2 linked regions of the Homo sapiens genome follow. The protein of the gene in region 1 purifies or fractionates together with the protein of each later gene. This does not show direct contact. Each region holds a gene or a part of one and is shown on either strand. Other genes may lie near its edges. The genes, in order: MSRB2 and UBE2V2.

Evidence for each region.
Region 2: the proteins of MSRB2 (region 1) and UBE2V2 purify together in Homo sapiens (co-immunoprecipitation; one large-scale study listed by IntAct). This does not show direct contact.

The regions. Positions count from the first base shown.
Region 1 is NC_000010.11:23,098,344-23,102,166, reverse strand, and holds part of MSRB2 (methionine-R-sulfoxide reductase B2, mitochondrial precursor), read right to left. Parts: intron 1-3,823. UniProt on the Homo sapiens protein: Methionine-sulfoxide reductase that specifically reduces methionine (R)-sulfoxide back to methionine.
Region 2 is NC_000008.11:48,046,196-48,050,018, forward strand, and holds part of UBE2V2 (ubiquitin-conjugating enzyme E2 variant 2), read left to right. Parts: intron 1-3,657; coding exon 3,658-3,783; intron 3,784-3,823. UniProt on the Homo sapiens protein: Has no ubiquitin ligase activity on its own. The UBE2V2/UBE2N heterodimer catalyzes the synthesis of non-canonical poly-ubiquitin chains that are linked through 'Lys-63'. This type of poly-ubiquitination does not lead to protein degradation by the proteasome.

The sequences.
Region 1 (3,823 bases):
TACGTTTGCGCGTGTGTGTCTCAGTGTTGGGGAGAGAGATGGGGAAGAGCACATGAATCTAGAAAGGAACTGCATCTCTATGAGATTTTTCCTAATAGCCCATAATCCCAGTTTAATTGTGAGGAGAAACATCAAACAATCCCAGACTGAGGGACATTCTACAAGGAACCTGACCAGTCCTCCCCAAAACTGTAAAGGTCATGAAAGACAGAGACAGTTTTGACAAATGTACTATGATGATGTCAGAAGATTACCAGGGGGATCCGGATGAGGGGTCTTGAGAACTCTGTACTGTCTTTATAACTTGTCTATAAATCTAAAATTATTCCAAAATAAAAAAGCTTATTTAAAAAACTATCTTCTCCATGGCTACCCGTGTACCATCAAGCACTACTGGAGAAAATCCCCCACCTGGGGAGAGGGTTGTCCTTATAAACTCAAAGTTACTCATCTCACTGGGGTTTCAGTGAACCATGGAACCATCTTTCCCCAGTCAGCTCTCTTCCCATTTCTCTGCAATGAGTGTTTTAAACCTTTTCCACTCTCAGGAATGTAAACTAGTACAACCACTATGGAAAACAGTGTGGAGATTCTTTAAAGAACTAAAAGTAGAATACCATTTAATCCAGCAATCCCACTACTGGGTATCTACCCAGAGGCAAAGAAGTCATTACATGAAAAAGATACCTGCACACACGTTTATAGTAGCACAATTTGCAATTGCAAAAATATGGAGCCAACACAAATGCCCATCAATCAACTAGTGGATAAAGAAATGATGGTATATATATAGACTATGGAATACTACTCAGCCATAAAAAGGAACAAAATAATGGCATTCACAGCAACTTGGATGGAATTGGAGACTATTATTCTAAGTGAAGTAAGTCAGGAATGAAAAACCAAACATCGTATGTTCTCATTCATAAGTGGGAGCTGAGCTATGAGGATGCAAAGGCATAAGAATGATACAATAGACTTTGGGGACTCAGAGAAGAAAGGGTGTGAGGGGGATGAGGAATAAAAGACTACACATTGGGTACCATGTACACTGCTCGGGTGATGAGTACACCAAAATCTGATAAATCACCATTAAAGAAAGAACTTATTCATGTAACAAAACACCTGTTCGCCCAAAAGCTATTGAAATTAAACAAAACAAAACAAAACAAAACAAAAAACCTTTTCCACTCTCCTCAAACCATGGTATCTATCTACTACGTCTCCCCTTCCTCTCAACAGATTTCACTTTTGCAAAATCAAAAGCCACAAACCTTCTGGCTACCAAACCATCACACTTACTAATACCTACATCTACCCTTTTTCCATCTTGTCACAGTGGAACGAGTGACTGCCTCTGATATGGTTTGGCTCTGTGTCCCTACCCAAATCTCATGTGACATTGTAATCCTCAGTGTTGGAGGTGGGGCCTGGTGGGAGGTGATTAAATCATGGGGACATATTTCCCCTTTGGTGCTGTTCTCGTGATAGTGAGTTATCGAGAGATCTGGTTGTTTAAAAGTTCACCTCCCCCTCTCTCTCTTCCTCCTGCTCTGACCATGTAAGATGTGCTTGCTTATGTGCTTGCTTCCTCTTCACCTTACATCATGATTGTAAGTTTCCCGAGGCCTCCCCAGCCATGCTTCCTGTACAGCCTGTGGAACCGTAAGCCAATTAAACCTCTTTCCTTCCTAAATTACCCAGTCTCTGGTATTTCTTTATAGCACTGTGAAAACAAACTAATACAAGCCTCTTCCTGTCTGTTTTTTTGCCACTTCTGTTCAGGATCCTGTCTCTTCTTGGCCACCTCAAATGATTTAAAAAGAGAATGCTTTAGCCAGAGGCACTAAAAAGAGCAAGAACAGGCTTTGCTAGAAAGAGTGTATGTCCTGGGTTCCTCCTCCCAGATCTAAACTCTGGTCCCGTGGGGGAATTTGTGAGACCTAATCTCTGGCTATCATTGACATTTGTCAAGGAAAGGACTAAACGCATCATGATAAAACACCCTCCTCTTAGCTTTGGCAAAGATCTTGCATTATTCCTGTAGATAGGTAAGAGGACCAACTTCAGGTACAAAGGTTGGAATTTACAGTCTGTGAAGCTGGCTTTATCTTCCTGTCTCCTTTCAGGCAGGAAGTGGAATGGGCTTAGAAAAAAACCCTATTGTCTCCTGGAAGCACTGTCCTTAGTGTGACTCAACAGGCAGTACACTATAGTAGCTGACACTGGAAAGTGGGAATTAGAGAAGAGCTAAAAGTCAGTGGGACTCTCATGAATTGAGCTTTAAAACATGTACTTCTTTCGCTTTGAACCTAAGGCTTGAGTTGGTCTGGGTTCCCAGCTCCCTCTCCCACACCTCTATATTTTGTTACACGTATTAGAGAGTGACTATCTGTTCTTCAGACACCACCTTCTCCCTCTGCCCTAATTTTTTTAAGAGACCGAGTCTCACTGTGTTGCCCAGAATGGAGCACAATGGCTATTCATACGCATGATCAAAGTACACTACAGCCTTGAATGCCTGGACTCAAGCGATTTTCCTTCCTCAGCCTCCCAAGTAGCTGAGACTACAGGTGCGTGACACAGTGCCACGCCATAATATTTTCTTTTTAAGTTTAAAATATATAACTAGTATTTAAATTGCTAACCAAAAGAATTAAGCCTTCATCTAAGTACAATATGGAAAGGACATTTTTAATGGTTCTTTTAATCCTTATCAATGTGGACCTTTTACACTATTTTTAATGTGTGCGAAAACTTTAGTGGGTAGGCAATAATGTTTAGACTAGTTCTTGTTCAAGCACCAATTATGCAACATTTAGCTGCAGAATTTGCCAGCCTAGAAGGCTCAGTCAAGGGCAGACAGACTTTGCTTTGATAGCAAAATGATGAACGCTCAGTTGGGTACACCCAGGTCAGGTTATATGTGGGCTGTATCACTTTAAGAGGTTTCTTTGACCTGGATGTTATGAGCTGAATTGTGACACTCCCTGCCCGCCAACTTCCAAATTCATATGTTGAAGTCCTAATCCCCAGTACTTTAAAATGTGACTGCATTTAGAGACAGGGCCTTTAAAGAGGCAATCATGTCAAAATGAGGCCATTAAGAGGGGGCCCTGGTCCAATAAGACTGGTGTCCTCATAAGAGGAAGGGACAGCAGAGAAAAGGCCGCCTGGGGACACAGCAAGAAGGCAGCTATCCCCAAGTTAAGGAAAGAGGTCTCAGGACAAATCTCAGGACAAGTCTTGGCCTTGGACTTCCAGCCTCCAGAACCGTATGAAAATGAATTCCATCGTTTAAGCTGCCCAGCCTGTGATATTTTGTTATGGGATCCCTAGCAAATGAACACACTGGGGCTTTAGAAAACAACCAAAGTTTAAATAAAAATTACAGTATGAGTAAATTCTGAGCAGTTTTATCAAACAGCAATTTAGGCACGTGTAAATTAGATACACGACAAGGTCTCTCACTTGGGAATGAGTCAAGTCTTCTGGCTACCGTGGCTAGAGAGAGGTTTCAACACTGGCTGTGTCCTTTTCTGTGTGTGTGCAGGTATTTTCTGTCCTCTGCACCACGTGCTCATCCTTTGGGGGCTACACATTTTCCAGATTCCCTCTACATTCTCTTGCTATCTTCACTATGAAAACATTTATCGGTTGCTGCTATTGCATGAGATAACTACACAGCTTTACTTTGAATTATGCCTTAATAAACTCAAATTCCTTGGAGTTCCCTTCTCTCTGTGTGCTGTGATTTGCACAGGCCATATATTTTGTTGGTCAGAAGTTCTACGGGGTGGGCCTCGATTTTTTCATCCCTAAG
Region 2 (3,823 bases), on another chromosome or scaffold:
TGCAAGCTCTGCCTCCCGCGTTCATACCATTCTCCTGCCTTAGCCTCCCGAGTAGTGGGACTACAGGGGCCTGTCACCACGCCCTGCTGATTTTTTGTATTTTTAGTAGAGATGGGGTTTCACCATGTTAGCCGGGATGGTCTCGATCTCCTGACCTTGTGATCCACCCGCCTCGGCCTCCCAAAGTGCTGGGATTACAGGCGTGAGCCACCGCGTCTGGCCTAATTTTGTATTTTTAGTGGGGACAGGGTTTCTCCATGTTGCTCAGGCTGGTCTCAGACTCCCGACCTCAGATGATCCGCCCACCTCGGCCTTCGCAAAGTGCTAGGATTACAGGCGTGAGCCGCCGTGCCCGGTTGAGAGGAGGAAGACTTTTAACATGTTACATGGTTCGTTGTTTTTTATTTTTATTTTATTTTATTTTGAGATAGTCTCACTCTGTCAACCAGGCTGGAGTGTAGTGGCCCGATCACACCTCACAGCCTGGACCCCCTGGGCTCAAACAATCCTCCCACCTTAGCCTTCTGAGTAGCTGGGACTATAGGGGTACACCACCATACCTGGCTAATTTGTGTGTGTGTGTGTGTAGAGATGGGGGTCTCACTGTGTTGCCCAGACGGGTCTCAAACTCCTGGGCTCAAATGGCCCACCTGCCGTGGCCTCCCAAAGTGCTAGGATTATAGGCGTGAACCACTGTGCCTGGCCAGTTGTTTTTTATTTTTTGTACTTTATTGACTAAGGTCCCTCTTTTTTTTTTTTTTTGAGATGGAGCTTTGCTCTTGTTGCCCAGGCTGGAGTTCAGTGACACTATCTCGGGCTCACCGCAACCTCTGCCTCCCAGGTTCAAGTGATTCTCCTGCCTCAGGCTCCTGAGTAGCTGGGATTACAGGCATGCGACACCATGCCCGGCTAATTTTGTATTTTTAGTAGAGATGGGGTTTCTCCATGTTGGTCAAGCTGGTCTCGAACTCCCAACCTCAGGTGATCCACTCCCTTCGGCCTCCCAAAGTGTTAGGATTACAGGTGTGAGCCACCATGTCCAGCCAGATCCCTCATTTTTTATGTTGTTCTAGTATTTATTTGGATTTATATGATTAGCAGTTTTGTTTTTCTATGTTTTTGTGTTCAGTTTTCTGAAGCAATATTTGTTGTCACTAGAGTTTAGTACTTTTTCAAGTTTTCTCATATTTAATGAAGGTACTGTCCCCATCTTTAAAATAGAAACAGTGTGAGAATTAAGTGAAATAATGATTAGATAATAGGAGAATACCTGAGTACTTGACTTAGTAAATATTAGTTTGTTTTTCTCCTCTTTTTTTTGCTCTTGCTTTTTATTAGATAACAGAAAAACTTGACTGTTAATTAAAATTTTTTTTTTTTTTGAGACAGTCTTGCTTTGCCACCCAGGCTGGAGTGCAGTGGCGTGATCTCAGCTCACTGCAGTTGCCACCTCCCGAGTTCAGGTGATTCTCCTGCCTCAGCCTCCCGACTAGCTGGGATTACAGGCGTGTGCTACCAATTTTTGTATTTTTAATAGAGACGGGGTTTCACCATGTTGGCCAGGCTGGTCTCGAACTCCTGACCTCAGGCAGTCTGCCCGCCTTTGGCCTCCCAAAGGGCTGGGATTACAGGCATGAGCCACCACACCCAGCCTGTTAATTTAAAATTTAGAGGGGATAAAATCAAAGGTGTCAGAAGTTAGGGTGATATTTACTGTAAGAATTGGATTAGATTAATAGGCTAGCTTTGGGATTAAATTTTTTTTTGTTTACATAAAATCTTTCAGAAAAGAGCTTTGGGTTTTTTTTTTTTTTTTTTTAAACAAAAGGAATTGAGGTAGAATTTACATGTAGTGAAATGCACAGATGTGCCATGAGTTTGACAAATGTAGCTTGTTACCCCTACTGAGATACAGAACATTCCTGTCATTCCAGAAAGCTCCCTTTGCGCTTTCCCACACCTGAGAGATTTGCGTGTTGTAGAGCTTTGGTAAGTAGGGTCATGTAGTGTGTACACTTACGGTTCTTTACTCAGCATGAAGTCTGAGCAATTCAGTTGTGTTATCTCATGTAGTAGGAGTGTGTTTCTTTTTATTGTTGAATAGTATTTTACTGTATGGATATACCACAATGTGTTTATCACTTCTTTTTATGGACATTTGGATTTAATCTACTTTCTTGCTTTTACAAATAAAGCTGCTATGGGCATTCTTGTAGAAGTCTTTTTGTGAACATGTGTTTGTTTCCATTTCGCTTGGGTAAATGCCTAGGAATAGAATTGCTGTATCATAGGGGAGTCTGATATGCATCCAGATTGGAGAATCACAGCCAAGATAATCATGAGATCTATCTGATTTTAGTCATTTTTATATATTGAAAGTGCTGGGGATATTATTAATATTTGCTTGCTATTAATCTCAGATGAGTTTTATATAGCTCTTTTTTTCTTAAAGTATTGAAATATTTAATAACATACATATAACATTGTTGCATAGGTTTTACATTAGAGTAGTTTAATACTGCAAATCTGACCTCCATTTGGATAGCTCTTGTTTATGGGGATGGGATCAGTTTGAGTAGGTGAGATCTGTAGATGGTTGGTTAGCTTCCTCCCTCTCTGGTCTTATACAGCAGCCAGCAGATATTAAATTTTTCACTTTCATTTATTTATGTATATATTTTTATGTTATTTTAATTATAATTTAGAAAATTTAAAGTTTCAATAATTATAATTCTCTTTAAAACAATTTTTTTTTCTTTTTAATCTCTTGAGTCAAGGTGAGGATTCATTTATTTTTTACTTTGCTGTTTTAATGGTACACTAATAAGTTAACAGAGTGAACAAAAGCCATAGCAGAAAGAAGAGTTAATTTATAGGCATGAAAATAAGCCCTGGATAATCTAGAAGCTTTAAGTTTGATACCTATTTGAAAATGATGTGTAAACATAAAGTTTGCCATTGTATCTCTGAATTCAGATAATGGGATTTAATGAACCTCAAAATTAATGAAGTGGCAACGTAAGTATAACTAACAGGGGACATAAAATAATTATGTTTTATTGCTGCAAAATAGTATAATATGGGGTTTTCTCTTTTGCTAGAAGTTATTGATTGCCATATTTAGTAGGATAATCATATAATTTGTTATCCAACAAGACCCTTTTGAGAATGAAAGGAGGCACTGTTAATAGTCAATTCTGGGACAATAGGAATAAGCAGAACTGTTCTGTAAAACAGAAACCTTCATATATGTTTAACACAAGTCTCAAGTAGCCCCTCCCTCTACAATGTAAACTTTTTAGCAAAATCTAAATTTAAGTGGTTTGCTTTTTCGTTTTTCCTTCTTCGTTCTAATTTGTTACAGGCATCATTTTTATCACAAAAGCAACTTGGGATCATATTGATAATACTTTGTAGAATTAATTTTGTAAAATCTCATGGAATTAATTTTGTAAAATCTCAATTTTTAAGTATGCTTATTGCATTTTTTCTCACCATATAGGTGAAATAAATTTGAATGTAGAAAAATAAATTCTTAATCATAAACACTGTCTTACGTACATTCATATTGTACTTTCCCTTTTTTTTTTTTAGCACTTAGACATTAATATTTTAGGTATTGTTATTTTGATTATCTTTTTGTTTTTTGCCTTCCAGACAAATTATGAAAACAGAATATATAGCCTGAAAGTAGAATGTGGACCTAAATACCCAGAAGCTCCTCCGTCAGTTAGATTTGTAACAAAAATTAATATGAACGGAATAAATAATTCCAGTGGGATGGTAAGTTAATATAGTCATTTTGGTTTTATATAACATAATG